Linked DNA regions of Homo sapiens: region 2 is linked to region 1. Evidence: fine-mapped expression QTL. A gene starts in region 1. The other region holds a variant in brackets. All regions are shown on one strand. Distances are between the middles of the regions.

Region 1 (9,854 bases):
GACCTCACAGGGTGAAAGCTCCTCTGGGAGCCCTCCGTCTGCATCTGCAGCCCTGGCAGCCCCAGATGTCTTACCTGATGGGTTCGCGGCTCTGTCATTTTGTCCCTCAGGCAAATACTGAAAGGACAGCAGGCTCCTTTGTAGGTCTGGGGAAACTGGGCACCCCCCACCCTGGTATGCCGGTCAGTCAGCACTTATTGAGTTCTTTTTTTTATTTTTTATTTTTATTATATTTTAAGTTCTAGGGTACATGTGCACAATGTTACTGTATGCAGGTCACTAATAGCTCTAGCCTGCACAGTTCCTTCACCTCTTTTGCCTCAGGAAAGCCACACATCTCTCCAGAATAAAGAACTAAAGACCAGTGACTAAGAGACAGACACTTGAAGGATTGCTCCATAAAGGCTGAGCCCTCCTTATCTCAGAAGAATGAGAACATTTTCTTGTAAGGAAAACAAGAGCCCTGTAGCCTTTCCACAGCCACAGAGCAGTGGAGTAGGGAAAGGGCGCCTCCACTGTGCAATCAAGGGTCTTCTTTCTGGCCAGGCACGGTCTCTCACACCTGTAATCCCAACACTTTGGGAAGCCAAAGCAGGAGGATCACTTGAACCCAGGAGTTCGAGACCAGCCTGGGCAACATGGTGAGGCCCTGACTCTACAGAAAAATTAAAAAATTACTCAGGGATGGTAGCATGCACCTGTGGTCCCAGCTACTCAGGAGGCTGAGGTGGGAGGATTGCTTGAGCCCAGGAGGTAGAGGCTGCAGGTGAACCATGTTCTCTCCACTGTATTCCAGCCTGGGCAACAGAATGAGACTCTACCCCCCCACCCCCTAAAAAAGTGTTTAACCATAAACCTTTCCCTCATCCCTAAATCCATTTTGGGTACAAGCCATCTACCCAATGGCTGTAATAATAGTTATTGATGATTGAGAATGTACAGTATATGTTGAGCACTTGCTAAGTGCTTTCCGTATATTATCTCACCATGTGGCAAGCCTGGAGAAAGCTTGCAGAGAGTGAGGAACTGCCCAAAGTCACACAGGTCATCAGGCTTCCTGAGAATGGCACCACGGCCTCGGCTTTACAGGCATGGCACTTGAGTTCACCTTCACGTGCTGGGGATCCTGTGTTCCCAGAAGGCAGAGACCCTATCTGTGTCCTTCTGTTAATTATTTTTGTGTACAAAATAATTCAGTCCTGTGCTCAGTGCCATGAACTATTAGGGATTTAATACATGCTTTTTGAGGGTGATAATGATCTCACCATCCCAGTTAGTGAAATAAACATTCCCTCCCTTCTCTCAAAGAGAAACAAAGGGCCACAGCAGGCCAAGCCACCCCAGGCACACTGCAGGGTGTGTGGAGATGGCACCAGCAGGTGAGTCCCACAGACCTGGCTTTGGATCCCAGCCTGGTCACCCACGGCCTGGCCCCTGGGGTGCACCAGCTAACCTCTCCAAGGCCAAGTTTCCCCAAACACGGGAGAAAGTCACAGCACCTACCTCGTAGGGTCATTGTGAAAATGAAGTGAGAAAATGCCCACGGTGTTCCCAGCAGCCCTGCCTGGTGGAAGGCAGGTGTTCCATGTCAGTTTCCTTACTCAGCACCCAGGCATCTTCTTCCTCTCGTGGAGCTCTCAGCACTCAAGAGCCCCTTCAGTAAGACCTGGAATGCAGTTTGTTGACCAAAGGAGTGCTGGCAGGGAGGATCTCCACTTGGGTGGCCGTATCTCCTACCTCTGCTCTTGGTCCCCCTTTGCCTTGGGGACATTCCCACCAACACACGCCACTGGCAGCGCACCCTGCTGACCAGCATGCACTGCTGTTCTTACTTACCCCAAAAGCCCAGACTTGAATACCCTGTTGTCCTCAGTGGCGCGGCTGAGACCAGGCTGGAGCTTTTCAACAAGATGTAACTCAAGTGGGGAATAACATGCAAGTAACCCTTAAGGTGACTGCCGCACCCTGTGGCCCACACAGAGAGGCTCTCTGCCCAGCCCCACTTGTCTGCAAAGGATATCCTCCAGCCTGTCTAGAGTCCACAAGGTCCAGGCTGGAGAGAAAGAGGCCAAGGAGCCAGATGTCTCTCTCTCACCCACGACCTACTTTCTGAGATCTTACTTCCATACTGAAGACAGGCCTCCTTCCCAGGGGATACCAGAAGTCAGAGTTCCTTTCAGTGGGTCTTGCCTTATTATATTCAGTAATGTGGCCCAGCAAATAAATATGTCAATTCAACAATAAACCCTGTGTCTATACATGCAACGCTCCCTGGAACAGCAGGGAAAGGGAAGAGGAGGGGAATTTGATTACAAGTGCTTTATATTTACGCTGTCTCATGAGATGCTTCCAACAGGCCTATCAGATATTTTAGAACCATCATTCCTAATTTGCAGATAACAAAATTTTGGCTTGGAGAGGTTAAGGGAATGACCAAGCTAAGCCCAGTTCTCCTGTCTCCCTCCCTTGAGTTCAGGATACCAACCCAATCACTGAATCTTCCCCAGGAACGAGCCTGGGGCCAGGGTGAGAAAGGGGCTTCCCGGAAGTGCTGAGTTAAATCGGCACTGGATGCAGCCACGGACAAGGGGACATGGTGGTTGTCCCTCTCTCTGCCAAGTTGTAGGTCAGGAGACCTGGTTCAAGCCCAGGCTTTGCCACTTGGAAGACTGTATGGTCTGAAATCATTCTTCTCAGTGCCTCAGTTTCTGCATCTGTGAAACGGTGAGGAACAAACCAATTAATACACATAAAGCCCTTAGTGCCCTTGATGCCTAGAACATGTAAGTATTTAATAAATATCAACATTTTTATTAACATTGTTATTGTTACTGTTATTCCCTTCCAAAGTCTTGCAAGAAGTAAATGGGATGACAGATGTGAAAACACATTATAAGCTATAGAGGTAAGAAATGACCACTCATGTATGCTGAGAAGGTAACAGGAAAAAGGGCTTGGCCTTAGATAATGTCATTGAACAGCCTCAAACTTTCAACAGAAAGCACAGAAATATTCCAAAAAGAGTACTCCAATAATTTGAAACCAGGCCACCGAGTCCAAGTTCTTGCCACAGTTCCAGGGCCGAGGCTGTTTCCCAAGAGCCCTGTAATTGCTTTCAACCTGTGCCTCACCCAAACACCACGGCTGGCGCAGGTGGACACCTTCCGTCTCTTCTCCTTCCAGGCTGGGCCCCAGAAAGAAATACTCCAATAATTCACCTTGTGGTTTTCAACTTTAGACCAGATTGTTTGTTATGTATATAACTGTTTGCATTTCACTTACTTATCCTCAATCGTCACATACCTGGGAGGGAAGGAGGCTGCACAGAGCCCCCGGAGCCCCAGCCCCACGTGGTTACACCTGCCCACGCTTCTGGTCTAAGTAGTCCTTGGGTGCCTTAGTGTGAACGGAGCATACAATTAAGCTCTGTCTCTCTTTCTCAGCTAACTCAGGTGCAATCCTTCTTGACAGTCTGGAGGAACCAGGCAGGCTGGCCACCAAGTGAGGGGAAGTTGCTGCTAGCTCATTAATGGTTGAAAGCCCAATAGTACCACCCCTCACTGTCTTGTAGCAAAGACCCTTGGCTCATGTTTAGAATGTTAGCCAAATAGGAGTCACCGAGTGCAACTTTATGGCAGCACTCAGCTGGAAACAGTGGGGCATCTAGGGGAAGTGTCCGTGCTCGGTCCCTGCCCTTACACGGATCAGTCTGGCTGATGGAATGAGACGAATGAAATGGAAACAATGAGCAAATCATAAAAGGCAGTACTGTCATGAAGAGTTTGATTTTATGGCACAGAATGCAATTGTTAGAGTTAGAGTAGGGAGAGATGGCCAAGAGCTAGAGTGGGCAGGGAAGGTTCCTGTGGGAAGAGGTTAGCTGGGCCTTTCAGGTATGCAGGAGTTGAACTGGTGGGAGGGAGAGTGGCATTCCAAGTTGGGGAAGCTATGTGAGAGAATCTAGGAGACAGAAAAGAACAAGGGCTGTTTATAGAGCAGAGGCCAAACTGGCATGACTAGAGTAGAAGGAGGGCATCCTAATTCCCAGCCTTATCCACCGCTTTGCAAGAACCAGGAAAATGAATTCCTGTTGGCCATAAAACTAGTTGCAGGTGATGTAACCCATCCTATTCGGCCTCCCATATTTACAGCTATACAGGAACAACTCTCTGAAACTCAGTCTCCTCACCCGTAAAATGGGATGGTAATACGTGCCCCTGGGAGCCAGCGAGAATTAAAAGGGATAAGATGCACTGGCTCCCAGGGGCAAGCACTAGCAGACAAGGAATAGGGCAGTCCTCCCTTCACACTCCACAGAGAAGAAATGTCCTCCAACTCTCCCAGGAGGCAGAGCCCAGCTCTCCTTCCAAACAGCCTTGGAGTTGCTTGGCCTCTCCACTTCTTCAACGAAGTTGTGGGCAGAAGACAAATGCAGAGTTCTCTTGTACCTGACAAGGAGAGAGAAGCAGACCCTGTGTGAGTCTCTTGCTGTTGACGTTGATCCACAGGGGGTGCAGGATGGGACTGAGGCAGGCCCACCTGCCTGGAAAGCCTGCCTGTACCCTGACCCCATGGGGCCCTAACACACACCCTCCCAGCCACAGGGGCTCTGCAGAGCTAAGCCAGCTGTCCTATGGAGGTGGGGACCCTCCTCCTGCCCTGCCACTCTCTCTTTCTCCTGGAGAGGACAGGCAGGTGGGCATGGCCACAGGAGAACTTCTCGAAGGTGCTAACTGGCCCAGAGAAAGAAAGGTGGCCTGGTAGGGAGTTGTCTACCAGAGATTGAGAGAGCATGGGAGAAGTTGAGAGGGAGGAGGAAAGTGCACGCCATCCTGCGCGCAGCCTCGCCTTAGGGAAAGCATGTGTGAGAAGTGGTGGTAGGCGGTTGCTAGCCTTGGAAACAAACAAACAGCCAACCAAAAGGCTTCGGAAGGAAGGAGTGTCTAATTAATCAGCCCCGAGGGACAGGTCCGCACTGCCTGACTGTGCTCCTCAGCCTGGTTTCAGGCCACCGAGTCCAAGTTTCTGCCACAGTTCCAGGGCCGAGGCTGTTTCCAAAGAGCCCTGTAATTGTTTTCCACCTGTGTCTCACCCAAACACCAAGGCTGGCGCAGGTGGACACCTTCCCACTTTTCTCCCTCCAGGCTGGGCCCCAGAAATCAGTAGAGGAGGGAGGAATCAGTCAGCGTGGCCATGCCTGGGAGGAGAGGCCCGTGTGGGTCTGTGGGGCTAAGAGGCAAAGGCGGGTGGCGGATGTGGGCCAGCGGGAGCCTGGAGGGGTTGACACCGCCTGCTCCACCGCAAGCCCCTGGAGGAAGAGCCCCGCTGTGCCCGAGAGCGAGCGCGGGCAGGTGTAACTACCCGGGGCTGGGGCTCCGGGGGCTCCGCGCAGCCTCCTTCCCTCCCAGGGACACCGCCCAGCTGCGCCCCGCGCCCCGCCGACTGCGCGGGCCTTGAGACGCTGGTGGCTGCCTCGGGGTTGGCCTGCTCCTCGCGCACATGTTCAGGGTCATCCGCGCTGCGCCTCTGCTTCAGGTGCTTGGCTAGAGAAAGGGCGGCAAGACGGGGCAGTGCGTGTGCGCGCGCGGGCAAGTGCATGTGAGTGCACACTTATGTGAGCGCATGTGTGTCTGCGCTTGTGCGTGTCCAGGGGAACCACAGGGAGCACCCTCATTCTAAGCCTCCAGAGGACTGCCTGAAGCCGCTAGATAGAAACTCCCCTAGAATGTAAGCTCCGGGGGGGAGGGAGCTTTGTTTGATGGCTGCTGTATTCCCAGTGCCCATTGAAGTACTGGGGACACATTAGATGCTTAATAAACAGCTGTTGAGTTAATCAACGGACTCTAGGAATGGAGGCAGACCGGCCCTTCTGGAACTGGAGAAAGGACAAGGCCACATTTCACCGTCTCCTCTGTTCTTGGTACCAGCCCTGGCGTCCCCGGCAACGCCAATCCTTCTCACATCCAGCTTGTGCCAAGTTTTCCTCCCTGCTCGTGTTTACACCTTCTCCCCTTTGTCTCTGTTTCCTGCTGGCCCCTGTGTGTAAGCACCCCAGCAGTCAGAGTGAGAGGAAGACGAAAGAAGCAGAATTCTGGAAATAGAGAGCTACCAGGGTGGCCTCTTCCTTCTGGAAGGACACGGAAAGATGGGGTGAGACTGGCGCTCTTCTTCAGCTCCTCCCTTTGGGAATTGGGACTTTGAGCTTCAGTTTCCTCACTTTGAAATAGCAGCTATTCCACCTGCCTCGCAGGATTGTTGCAAGAAGTCAGGCAGGAGGCTGAAAAGTTCTGGAGCACATGATAGGTGCTACAGAAACGTTCGTTTCGTCTCCTGACTAGCATCCAACAGTCTGGGAGTGCCCCAGGTGTGGCTGAGGGTGGTTATGGTTTGATAACCACCACCAGAACACCCCTCCTTTTTTCACAAAATGCCTTGAGGAGAATTTAATGGCTGTCGAAAATTAAGGCAAGCTTCATTTCTAAAACATTCAGGAGTCAATATGTTGTGAGTCATGTATTCCGTCGGGGCCTCCACTCACTCCGGAGGGAGCTTTTCCAAGTAATTAAACAACGATGTCGTGATCAAGCTGAAGTCCACCAGCCCCAGCCTTTCCATTCGGGACCTTCTCCTGCACATGCTGCAGCTGCCTCCAAGACTACTGCGATGGAGATGAGCAGATTCTTCCTTCAGTTGTAGAGGGAGACACTGCGAAAACCTAATGCTGTCAATAACGCTTTTCATCTCGAAAGGAAGGATCCGATTTCACTCTTTTCAGCCTGATTTAAGGACCCACCAGAAAAAAACAAACTTCATGGGGTAATTAGGAAATTATCCTCTTACAAATTGGTAGATGTCGTCTTTTTTTCCTTGGGACAAGACAGAAAGGACATTGTTTGTCTTTTACCATGGTGAAGCTGCTGCGATTAACCATGCCACCTGGGGAATGGTTCACTTGTGGGTAAGCTGATAGCCTGCTGTTCCAGGGTGCGCCTGCCAAGGTACTCCAGAATAACATGTTACATCCTCTGTGCACCCCTTCCCGATGAAAGGAAAACTTCAATCACATTTAGTTAAAGGAGCCCTTTAAACCTGGCCTGTCAATATCCTGGAGGTGGAGAATTACACCAAGGTTAAGAAAAGGTTTCCCAGAACTGGCTAGACATGTATTTGTTTAAAGGGATTAGGTGCATTCAGTCTGGGCCTGATCAATACTGCCTGTTTTGGGGTTTGTGGAAAACAGTGCAAATATCCAGAGAGAGCCTAGGAAGTCCCTAAAGACCCAAGGAAGGATTTTTTTTTTCTATTTGATAACAAGGAGAAATCCCTACTGTACAGTTTCCAAATCCTGACCTGTTTTAACTTAGGAATCTTGTGAAAAGTTATTGTAAATATAGACCAAAAGGCCAATGCTAAAATTGGAATTAACATCAACCTCCGCCTTTCACTCTGACATATTCTGTCTCACTCCTTTCTTACCTCTCCTGCTCTCTGTCTTACTCTGTCTCTCTGTGTCTCTCTGTGTGTCTCTCTCATACACACACAAAGCAACAACCCAACAGGCTTGACAAACCTTAGATTCATTAAGAGTCTTCTGAAGTTTTCAATATGCTAAAAGATGTACCGTAAGAATATATGTGTGTATGCGCATATATGTTAGCATTTCTGTTTAGCACTTGGTATACTCCAAAAGCTCTTACACACATTTTCTCACTGTGGCAGGTGTTATTATCCACAATTTTACCAAAGAGTAGACTGAGACTGAGACTCGGGGAGGTGAAGTGACTTGGGTAACAGTGTGCCGTCAGGGTACGGTACAGCCAGGAGTGAATCTGCCCTCCCAGCACATTAGAAATGACCATCATCTCATGCAGCTCTGCATGAAAAGACTCCCATAGTTAAATTACCACTCTATAGTAAAGCCCTGATTGCAGTTTCATCTGCGTCCCCTTCCAGAAGTATTTGCAATTCATTATCCAAATGAGAAAAGCTGTTAGTAAAAATTTCAGGTACCAGTAACAGGCTAAATAAACAAACATTAGGGTTTAAGATGAGTCAGGGACTCTTGAGTTGCGAAAGTTGGCAGGAGTTTTGTTTCTAGGAGCCTCTACAAGCCTCCTGGATGCCACTCTGCCTTCAGCCTCTCCCCTTCCAATCTGCTCTATGCGGTGCGGACTACTTGCCTCAACAGACCCAGACATACGAGCATCAGAAGGGAGGACTCCCTAGCGCAGTGGCTCCCTGAGTGTGGTCCCAGGACTGGCAGAAGCAGCATCACCTGGGAGCTTAATAGAGATGCCAATCCTCAGGCCCTGCCCCAGTGCTGCTAAATCAGAAACTATGGGAGAGGGGCCCAGCGATCTGTGTTTTAACAAGCCTTCCTGGTAATGCTGGTACACACTAAAGTGTGAGTACCACTGACTATTGCCTACAAGAGAGTGCCCAGACACCTCCCAGACCTCCCTAACTGAACCTAACAGGTTCCTCTCCTCTAACCACACTCACCTAACACTCACTGTTCTCTGAACATTTCTTTTTCATGTATCTTTGATGCCCTGTTCCTGTCATTTTGAATGGCATTTCCTTCTTCCCTGCCTGACAAACTTGTATTTATCATTTAAAGCCCAATTCAAAGATCTCTCCCTCTCGAGACTTCACGTGTTTTCTCTCTGCTGAGTTTTAGTTACTCCTTCCGTACCTCCCCTGATGGCACCCGTGCATACCTCAATAGCATCACCACATCGCGTTCTTTGGCATGAGACTCATGGTGGACTGGAATCTCAAGGTAGCCCCCGTACGTAGTGTTGTGCCAGGAATGTAGTAGATATTTAATAAATCCAGACTGATTAAATGAATAAGTGAATGCATGAGCTCAAGTACAGTCATTCTTTGGTGTCCCTAGAGGATTCATCTTAGCACCTTCCCAGGATACCAAAATCCACAGATGCCCAAGTCCCTGATATAAAATGGCACAGTATTTGCATATAACCTATGCACTTCCTCCATATACTTTACATCATCTCTAGGTTACTTATAATACCCAATACAGTGTAATGCTATATGAATCATTATACCTTATTGTTGAGGGAAAAATGGCAAGAAAAAAGAGTCTGTACATGTTCGGTACAGATGCAACTTTTTCAACATTTTCCATCTGAGGTGGGTTGAATTCATGGATGTGGACCCCACGGAGAGCTGTATTCTATCAGGCCTCATTGAGTACTCAAAATAGGCAACTGGCCTGTGAGCACATGGCTGGTTACTTCAGAGCCTGATCTGACCTCCAGGCATCCTGACTCCTAGCCAGGGTAGTCTGTGAAGTTTTGTTTGTTTCACCTGGGCGCCATGTCTTTAGGTTATGTAACTGTTAGACAGGAGTCATTTTTGGCTACTTTGTGACAGATAAATATATCAAATGCTCAAAACAGGTACAGTTCTTCCCTTGCAGCTGTGGAGCTGTGACTGTTGAGGCCACAGCCTGTATTGGTTATCTTCGCATCTCTCTGTGTTTGTAGTTGTAAATGGCAGCGACCTATCGCAGTGGTATCTAGACCAACTATTAAACCATTTATAATGCCCAGAAACCAATTTGTAGCATCCAGCAATTAGTTCCATTCATGTTTTTAATTTTTTTCCTTTGAAGTTTAATAGACGGTTATTATGATGTAGTCTTCACTGCCTCCAAGTCTGCAGGCTGTGTGCAGCCTCAGTCAGCAGCCAGAGAAAATTAGACTCTACAGAGAAACGATGTAACCTAAAGCGATGCTTTGGATTCCATTTCTGAGCCTGTTGCCCTGCCCAGGTCATTGTCCATGAAGAGAGTTAGGACGAAAGGAGATTTGGAATACATACATTTA
Region 2 (9,854 bases), 78 kb after region 1:
AGCACAGTTCAGTCTCAGCAGTTAACCTGTTTCTGCAACTTGATGCTCTCCTCTGCAGCCTCAGCAGCCATGACCGTGGAGAGCTGTGAGTTGGAAAGCCTTGGCTGGCTGCTGTTTGTTACATTTCCAACAATCTCTAGCATTGGGTCATTTGCAGCTCTGGAAACCTGGCTAGTAGGGACCTGCGAGCCGGCAGGAGGGGATGGAGGAGGAGTGGTGGTGATGGTTCCTTGGAGGGTAGAGGTGCACCAAACCCGAGGCATGGATGGCCCGCCAGAGCTACGAGGCAGAACTGGGCAGGGGGCCGGGTGGGAAATGGGGAGCGCCCCCCATTTTCCCTTTCATACTCCTCTACCCCTGCCAAGAAAAAGGAAGTCCTCCTGTCTCCTTTTTTCATTTTTTAAATTATTTTTCAATGACAATTAATAATTGTGTATATATGGGGTACAATGTGATGTTTTGATTTATGATATTGTAGAAAGATCCCATCAAGCTAATTAATATATTCATCACCTCATCAACTTATCGTTTGTTTGTGGTGAGGACCTTAAAGATCTATTCTTCTAGCAATTTTCAAATATACAGTACATTGTTATCCACTGTGGTCTCCGTGCAGTGCACTAGATCCTCCTTTCTGACAAGGCTGCATTGAGAGAGCGTTTGGCAGCTGCTGCAGCATCAGGCATGGGAACGGCTGGGCCACCGGCTGCAAGCTTGTCTCCCATGACCCCGGGGTAAAACGGGTGCAGTTCTGGTAACAGGCAGGCCCTCCCCCAGCCTCCTGCTCAGGGCTGCCACTGACACTGCACCCGAATCCTGCCTGCTGCCCAGCAAAGGACATGCCTGCCACATCCAGCTCTCCTTCCAGAGGCACCTGTCACTTGCTGCCCTCTCCTTATCCCAGTCCCACCAGCCCAGCAGGGTAGAGGCCAGGGCTCGCCTCGCCACGGGAAACTGCTCCACTGCTGATCCCAGCCAGGGAAAAACTGCCTTGGGAAGAGTGTGCTCAGCTCCCTGTGGGGGGGCAGGGAATTCCACCATCTCCCCCACAGCCACTTCCAGATGTACCTGGAGACCTGGGTTTGCCTCTGGGGCGAACTGGAAAATTGACAGCAAAGGAAATGAAAATTCTCCAGGGAGCCAGAGACTTTTGGGGGTAGATGGAGAAATGGATGAGTTTGCGTGCCTTGCACTGCATGTGACACCCAGAGTTGAGAATGGGCCTTTGAACTAGCCAAGCCAGCCAGCTGGTCTGACCTCCAAGGCAAGCGCGGCCCTGAGAGGCTACCTGATTGTACCAAATGTCAAGGCCAGTGCTGAGCAGAGCCAGCACTGGAATGAGTTCTCCTGAGACCCAGTTCCCTCAAAACCCACTAGTTTTTCCCCTTCCCCACCCCTGAGACCCAAAGCTGAAGAGTAATTATGGTGACCTCCAAGGCCCCATGTGATCTGCCTCCCCACCCCCAGAACCTATCTGATCTCCCCTTGTCCTTCTCCCCTCACTCTCTGCACCCCGGCACACAGCTGGTCCCTGAGCACCCCAGCCATGCTACGTGTTGGCCCTGACATCAGCATCACTAGTCCCCTCACCTGCTTCAAGTCTTGGCCAAGTGTCACCTCACCAAGGTGGAGTCTCTGACCATCCTATTACTACCGCTGCGGCCTGCCCCGCCTCCTCAGCAGGCCAATCTCCCCTCCAGCTCCACTTTTCTTCTCTCTCAGGACTCCCACCTCCTAACATGCCCTTTATCTCTTTATTTATTATGCCTCCTGCTGATGGTCTGCCTCTACCACAAGAATGTCAGCTACACAAAGGGCAGAGACCCCATCTGTTTCATTCACGCTGTAACCTCCGTATTAAGAGGGGGCTCTAACTCAACCAATATTCACTGAATGAATGATGAGATGAGCTTCTTTAAAGGGTACTTGTGCTATATGTTTACTTGTCTTTCCAGATCGCCCCCAGAGGCTTAATATCAAATGCACCAAATGATATACCCGCTTTTTAAATGTACCCCCACAAAAAAGGGAAGCCTGAAATCTAAGCCCCTCTCTCATGCCTTGCAGTCCCCATCTGGGACCTCAGGTGAATGATGAGGCACTGCATGTGGGGTTAGAAAGACTTTAGTCTTGGCATTGTGGGAATGGGAGTAATGCCTTTTTAGAGAATTAAGGTATCCTGGTGTCATGTGCTGGTGAGGCCCAGTGGCCCTGCCACAGAATGGGCAGTACCTCCTCACCCACTCCTTCTGGAGATGGCACTGGTGGCTCAGTTGCATATTCAAGCAACTATTGTCAGGCCAGGATTTGTGATGTATCCCAGGATCCAATTAAAATTGTTGTTGTTGCTGTTGTTGTTTTGGTCTTTGCACGGACAATATAGCAAGTCTGGTAAGTTTCTCTGATCGGCAGCAAGCAGCCTCGGGGAGAGAGCTACAATTATTGAGCACTGCGCCTTGGTTTTTACGTACATCACCCCTCACCATGCTCCCAGCAGTCCTGCAGTGAAGATGTTGTACCCGTTTTGAATTTTAGGAAACTGACGCGCAGAAAATGCAAGGGACTTGCCTGGAGTCACACGGCTAGAGGGGATAAGGCCAAAGATTCAACTCCATGCTCTTTCTAACACACCAGGCTCCCAATAAGCACTTATTACAAGAATGAATGATCCAAGGCACAAGGACTGAAGCAGAGAATGGGTATGTTTTAAGGGAGAAGAGGGATAAAAGAAAGGTCACGGCCAGGTGCAGTGGCTCACGCCTGTAATCCCAGCACTTTGGGAGGCCGAGGCAGGTAGATCACAAGGTCAGGTGATCGAGACCATCCTGGCCAACATGGTGAAACCCCGTCTCTACTAAAAGTACAAAACAAAAATTAGCTGGGCGTGGGGGCGCATGCCTGTAGCCCCAGCTACTCAGGAGGCTGAGGCAGGAGAATCTCTTGAACCCAGGAGGCGGAGGTTGCAGTGAGACGAGATCACGCCACTGCACTACACAGCCTGGCAACAGAGCGAGACTCCACTGAAAGAAAGAGAGAAAGAAAGAAAGAGAAAGAAAGAGGGAAGGGAAGGGGAAGAGGGAAGGGAAGGGGGAGGGGAAAGGGAAGGGAAGGGGAAGGAAAGGGGAAGGGGAAGGGGAAGAGGAAGGGGAAGGGGAAGGGAAGAGAAAGAAAGTTCACAGTGTAAGGCCAGGCGCGGTGGCTCACGCCTGTAATCCCAGCACTTTCGGAGGCCAAGGCAGGTGGATCACGAGGTCAGGAGATCGAGACCATCCTGGCTAACACGGTGAAATCCCGTCTCCACTAAAAATATAAAAAAATTAGCCGGGTGTGGTGGGGGGCGCCTGTAGTCCCAGCTTCTCGAGAGGCTGAGGCAGGAGAATGGCGTGAACCCGGGAGGCGGAGCTTGCAGTGAGCCGAGGTTGCGCCACTGCACTCCAGCCTGGGCAACAGAGCAAGACTCCGTCTCCAAAAAAAAAAAAAAAAAAAAAAAAAACTTCACAGCATGGAGAGCAGGCCCACTTGGGACACAGAATGGGCATGTGTCAAGGGCCCTGGGAGGAGGTGCTGGAAAGGGACAGTGGAGAAAAGGGGGGGACAGCCGATCAGTCCCCTGGGCCATTCTGCTTGCCTCCTCACTAAGAATAGTAGCATCTCCCCTCGCTCCCACTGCTTTCTGTGGCTCTCAAAATGCTTTCGCATGCATTTTCTCACTACAGCCTCAGAACAATCTTTAGGAGTAGTGTTATCTTCCCCATTTCACAGATGAGAAAGCTGAGACTCAGGGAGGCCACATAACTCGCCCAAGAACACATAGCCAATTAGTGGCAGGTATGGGGCTCCATTTAAGTATATGACCCCGCTCTGGTTCAGTATTCTTATCCCCACCCCAAATAAAGAGAATCACACGACCTTATTGTGATAATAAATAGCAACTGTAGTCAGAGGGAGAGAGGCCCAGGGAGGAACAATAATCTAACTAAGACGCTTGACATTGGAAACTCCTGGAGGGCAGGGCAGAGATCATGCAGGAGATTTAACAGCACCCAGCACAGCTGCCCACGCGGAGGTGCGTCTATGCTGAGCTGCCACAGCAAGGCTGCAGTGCCTGGCCCGGAGCTTGGTCACGCTGACCTCCACGGCAGGAACTGAGAGCAGCATCTACTCCCAATCCTGCATAAGAGGTCATAGAAACACCCTACAGCCCAGGGGGGAGCCAGTCCCGGCCAGGAGGTGGCGTCACAGTTCAGAGAGGTGCCAAGTGAGCAGAAAACAGCTCCTGGTCTCTGTAGCTGAGAGAGACAGAGCTGGACATCCTGGCCCGATGGAGCTCTGGGTGTTGTTCCCACAACAGCAACAGCACAGAGCGCTGAACACACACCCCACAGTTCACTGTCCGTGGCCAGGAGGCCATTCAAAACGTGATTGCTGGTTGTCAACTCCAAGAACTAACAGGAGTGAAAACTCACACACACACACCCCCAAGAATGCAGGCTCTGCCTGGCACGCAGGGAAGTCTGCCCTCGTGCCTGGGGTTCCTTCCTCTGTGGGCATCCCATCTTCAGAGCCTTGGCTCTCCCTTCCCCTGAGGGATTACTCACCACTTCCCTAACACTGCCGGGCTGCCCTGCTTTGCTGCCATGGAGTCCAGTCATCAGGCAGATTCATTCACATCTACGCGCCTGAGTGGTACTGGCCACCACGTAACGGAGTGGACATCAAACAGAGAAGTGGGCAACCTGGAATTGGGTGCCAGTCCTCGAGTCCCTCATCAGCCAAAAGAAAATCATCTCATGAATGCCTACCCTCCAGAAGTGTCACGGGGAGACCATCAGGTGTGTACCAGAAGCACTTCCTACGCTGCAAAGCAGCAAAGAAAGGCAGCCTCTATAGCGGTTTGTAAAGAGTGCCTTGCAGAGAGGACACAGCCTGGCTGATGAGTTTCCAGCAG[C/T]AGAGCTTTAGGTATGATTGAATCTTGGAGAGGAAGAGACTTTGGTTCTGTTGAGCCTGCTCCATGTTTCTCAAAGCACACACCACCCACTCTGCCAACAGGTAAAGCTTCGGATGGAACCTGCTGTGTTCTGTCCTCTTCCAGCTGAGCCAGGCCCGCGGGCCCCCTCCAGGAGCTCCGGGCAAGCAGCCCCTCATGGCCCGTGGTGGAACTGCACCCTCAGCACTGGAGAGGGCGGTCGCAGGAGCCTGCGAGGAAGGTGGGGTCTCAGTGCTTTCGCACAGGGCGAGTGGAGCTGGAAATGCAGCCCCCAGTAGTTTCAGTTATTCCATGTATGGCTTTTCTCTCTCACCTTGCACCTTTAGACCCTAATTTCCTGTGAGCAATGTGCTGGGAAAACTGGCAGCAGCTCTCTGGCAACCCTGGGGGAAAGAAGCGAAGTGGGGTAGAAGCGGAAGCCAGGGGCAGAGGCTGGGTCGGTCCAGCCAGCCCGCGAGGGCTCCCACGCAGCAGAGGTTCCACTGAGAGGAAGCCGGGGCTGGCCCGGCCGGGAGACTCCCTCCACGCCCCGTGTGTGGAGTGCCCGGGCACCCTATACCCTCAAGGTGGCCTTGACCTCTGGAGACAGGTGTTGGCTCCTTGAGTCACCAACAGCAGGGACCAGACCGGGAGGTGTTTCTGGGCGGGAAGGGCTGGGCCAGGCCAGGCTCCAGCAGGCCCCCTTGTGGTCAGAGGGGTTGCCTGCAGGATGATCGGCTTGGGAACCAAGGCAGCCACTCCCCACATGGGAGTTGGACCCAGGCTTGAAGGACACATTGTCACATCGATTCACTCTCCTGGGAGGCCTCCTTGTCACACAAGATGTCCTGGCCCCGGTGTTTTTCTTCACCATATTTCTCCCAACTGTAATTGTGTAGTTCCTGGGGCGCTTATCTCTCAACGTCCATCTCTGTGAAAAAAGCCGTGACCCTCCAGGATAAGGTCTGTGCGTGAGACCCCCTGTGTGGAAAGGACGTATGAAAGTCTCAGGACTCTACCTAAGAGCCAGGACCCGGCTCAGGTCGCAGCTCCACTGCACCAATGCCCCTCAGCCCCAGGAGAGACTGAGATCTCTGTAAACAGCAGAGATCAGCAATACAGGCCTTGCCCTGCTGAAACTTCCCTCTGAAAGGAAGGATAATGCTTTCAGCCAAGTGCCTGCCCAGAGCTCTGCAGGTGTGTGGCATGGAGGGCCTGGTGCCCCAGGAGGAGCTCAGCCTCCTGCCCCACCAGAATGGCCCGGGGCTCCCCAGGCTCCCTGCGATCCTGGCTCTCGTCACACCACTCTCCAATCCCACATTTGGTCCTCTGTCATGTCCATGAGGCTGTGGGTGCACCCTGTCATTGTTTGTATCCCCTGGCGATTAACACAGTCCAGGCAGAGAATCAAGTCAACAAGAATGAAGGAGAAAGTGGATCAATGAATGTTGGGCCCTATTTAGGGGCTGAGGACACAGAGATAAATAAAATTCTATCTCTGCCCATGCAGGGTTCAAAGTCAAATTGGGGGACACAAAGTAATAATCACAGTACAGTGAAATTCATGTGTAGAGTGAAAGTCATGTTTAAGGAAGCTTTATTAGGGCACATGACAAAATATCCATGACTATGTTTTAGCTGGTCAGGGAAGGCTCCTTGGAGGAGGTGACTTGGAACAGTCTTAGAGGAAAGTAAAAATTCCAGGCAGGGATGAACAGGGCTCCCAGGCAGGGCACCTCATGTGAAGAGGTACAAGAAGCCAGAGTGGAAATGTGCAGAGCTTACTGTGGGGACCTAAGGGTGGCACGTACACCGTTGGAGCCAGCGCAGGAGCTGGCCTGGGGTGCCAGAAGGGATGGAAGAAAGGTTCCCAAGGGGGTTGGAATATCAAGCAAGGGATAAGTTGTGGGGTGGCGAAAGGATTGTAAGCAGAATGCTTGACTCCCCAGGGGTTTTTTTCCAACAGGATTCTCTGACGGCATTATAGAGAGAGGAGAGGAGGGGAAGAGCCTCAGTCAGGAGGCTCTGTGGGATGCTGTTGCCTTGGTCCAAGCAAGAGACAAGGCAGGCCCTGAGCAGGATGTGGCGGGGGGCTGGAGTGGGAGGACGGATTTCAGAGATATTTAGGAGAAAGAACTTGGGGCGCAAAGGAGAGGTGGGGAGAAAAGAGGGTGAAGGAGAAATAAGGTAAAGGGGAACAGAAGCCAAGCATCAGCTTCTCCTGCCTCTTCTTCTGCAATCCTCACTCCCCAAGCACGGACCAGCCAAGGACAAAGACCCAGCTCACTGGTCAGCCTACACATGTCTCAGCTATTCTTCTCATGAAAGAGGATGTTTTAGAAACCCTGACCTGAGCTGGGTGGTCTTATTTGTAACAATATTGTAGATGGCACATAGAGGCACTTGGATAAATACTGAATGAGGCCGGGTGCAATGGCTTACGCCTGTAATCCCAGCACTTTGGGAGGCTGAGGAGAGCAGATCACTTGAAGCCAGGAGTTCGAGACCAGACTGGCCAACATGGAGAAACCCCATCTCTACCAAAAATACAAAAAAATTAGCCAGGCATGGTCGTGCATGCTTGTAATCCCAGCTACTTGGGAGGCTGAGGCAGGAGAATCACTTGAACCCAGGAGGCGGAGGTTGCAGTGAGCCGAGATTGTGCCACTGTACTCCAGCCTGGAAGACAAGAGTGAAACTCCATCTCAAAAAAAAAATAAATACTGAATGCATGATTTAGCAAGTGAATGAGTGAGTGCATGAATGAATAAATGAATTCTTCACAACTTATCCCAGGACAGACTGACTAGCAGGTTTATCCTTGCTCAAAAGAGGAACCCCCAGGTTCCTCCCTGCTGCTGCTTTGAGTCCACGTGCCCAGGGCTTGCTGGCTGCCCAGGCTCAGCTGAGACTCACAGTTGTTTGTCTAAATCTTCCTCTTTTGGAGGTCAGAACTGCAGACCTGGGAAGGGGATTGAACTCCAGAGCCTGCTTTTTCTGTGCAGGGGCTAGAAAGATTGAAAGATACAAAGATGGAAACCTCTGGATTTCTCACCAGTTGGTTGACTACCCTGAAAGAGACTGTCAAAGTTATGCCTCCTTTCCAAATGATCTCACCCACTGCCAGGAGATGATCTGCGTGACCTACAAGCAAAGGCAGATAGCAACCAAGAGCTGAAATTAAAGTAGTGGAAAGATTAATTTCCCCATACAGGGCACTTCCCCACCCCCCAACCCTGCTTTTTGTTTTTTCGTTTTTTTGGGTTTTTTTTTTTGCACAGGCAGCAATTCAATAAATAATTAATGCTTGCTAATCTTTTAGCTATTTCTCCTGTTGTAAAAAATTAATTGGTCTTCAATCATCTATTGCATTGTAATATGGAGGTATTTGGCCCTAGTCCACCACCCTGCTGAAACACGCCCCTCCTGATGTTCCTTGGCATATGTCAGTGACACTGGGCAGTCATGCCCAGCCTCCAGGTTCAGGACATGAATGGGAGTGCACAGCCATGTGGCAGACAACTCCAGGGAGCTTCACACAAGCACTGCCTCTTTCTTCCAGCACGTTTGAGGAGTTTGCAAATGCTCATTCTCACAACACCTCCTCCCTAGTTGCTGAGACTCCTATTTTGCAAAAGAGGTTGAACAAGATTAATGATGGGGTGGAGAAGCAGCACCATCTCTCTCCAGGCCTCTGACTAGGGACATCACATGTCCTGGGATCTCTTTCTGGCTTTTGCCACTGAACTTGTGCCTCAGTTTGCCTAAGCAGGACTATCAGATCCACAGGAAGCAAAATGGGGAGGGGCGGTGGGGGAGGGAAGATTTCCAGATGTCTTGGTTCCTGCAGCCTCAACTACGACATTTTACCTCTTTGAAATCACAACTCAATCATACCACCTCCTCCAGGAAGCTTCCTAGATTAAACCAGCCTGGTTATCCCCACCCCAGTGCCTGACTTGCCCTCCCTATTCAGTGCCCTTTAGAGATTATTCTAATGACAAAGTTCAGTGGATGACTAGTTTGCCTACTATTGTTTTCTCATATTAAAATTTAAGCCATGTAGGGTGGTAATCATGTTTGCTCTTCAGTAAATATTCCAAGAACTTGTGTGGCTGCAAAAAGTCTTACAGAAGGGAGGAGAGGGGGTTGTCAGCAGGAGCAGCCCAGGAGACGCTCATGAGAATACGCAAGGGTCTGCACCAGTCAGCACTTGGAATTGTCCCTCCTGGGAGAGCCATGTAGCTAGCCGGTAGGTTCAGAGGACAAGCACCATCAGGGGCTCATGTCTGAGTCCCGCCCGGCTCCTTCTGCCACTTCTGAGTGGCATCACTTAATCTCTTCCAGCCTCAGGATCTCATCTGAAAAAATGTCTCCCTCATAAGGTTGTTGTAGGGATTACGTAAGATGGTGAATGTAGACAACGATTGCAAACTGGGGAGCACGAGGTCGATATGAGCACTGATTGCTGCCCCGCTACATGGTCCTCTTGCTCTGCAACCATCTTCAGAGGCACCATCCTGTGCCTACCTTGGAAACAGCCTGAATTCCAATTCCCTGACTTGCATCCCTCCCTCTGGCCTCTTAAGGTAGTTTGAGGATAGCATTCTACAATGTCAGAGCTAGGACAGATCCTTAATGGTCACTTTGCAGGTAGAAAAACAGGTCCAAAGACCAATGCAACTGACGTGGGCTTGCACAACTGCATTGGGCAGCTCAGTCCCAACCCCACGACGCCTGACTGCCCACAAGGGCGCTCCTTACTAATAGAGTTTTGATTGGGTACTTCCTTGAGCCAGGTTCTCTGCTGAGCACCTAACATGGGTTACCTAATTTAATCCTCACACAACTCTGTGGGGTCAATACAGTGGTCATCTTCATTGTTTAG

Which allele goes with the higher level. Alleles are on the strand shown, and positions count from the first base shown. SD is a standard deviation of normalised expression in the study named.
In carriers of allele T in region 2, the expression in sun-exposed skin of the gene that starts at base 4,448 in region 1 tends to be higher than with C alone (small effect, 0.34 SD a copy in GTEx).

The links.
Region 2: its variant is fine-mapped to the expression of LINC01395 in sun-exposed skin (GTEx, PIP above 0.99).

Annotation. Positions count from the first base shown.
Region 1 is chr11:129,612,822-129,622,675 of GRCh38, forward strand. It overlaps LINC01395 (long intergenic non-protein coding RNA 1395), which reads right to left and starts at 4,448. Exons shown (of 4, transcript NR_120582.1): 1 at 4,190-4,448; 2 at 2,486-2,714; 3 at 1,504-1,666.
Region 2 is chr11:129,690,573-129,700,426 of GRCh38, forward strand. No RefSeq gene overlaps it. Among named protein-coding and RNA genes, the nearest start is that of LINC01395, 78 kb to the left of the region's middle. The variant C/T (reference allele first, on the strand shown) is at 4,949.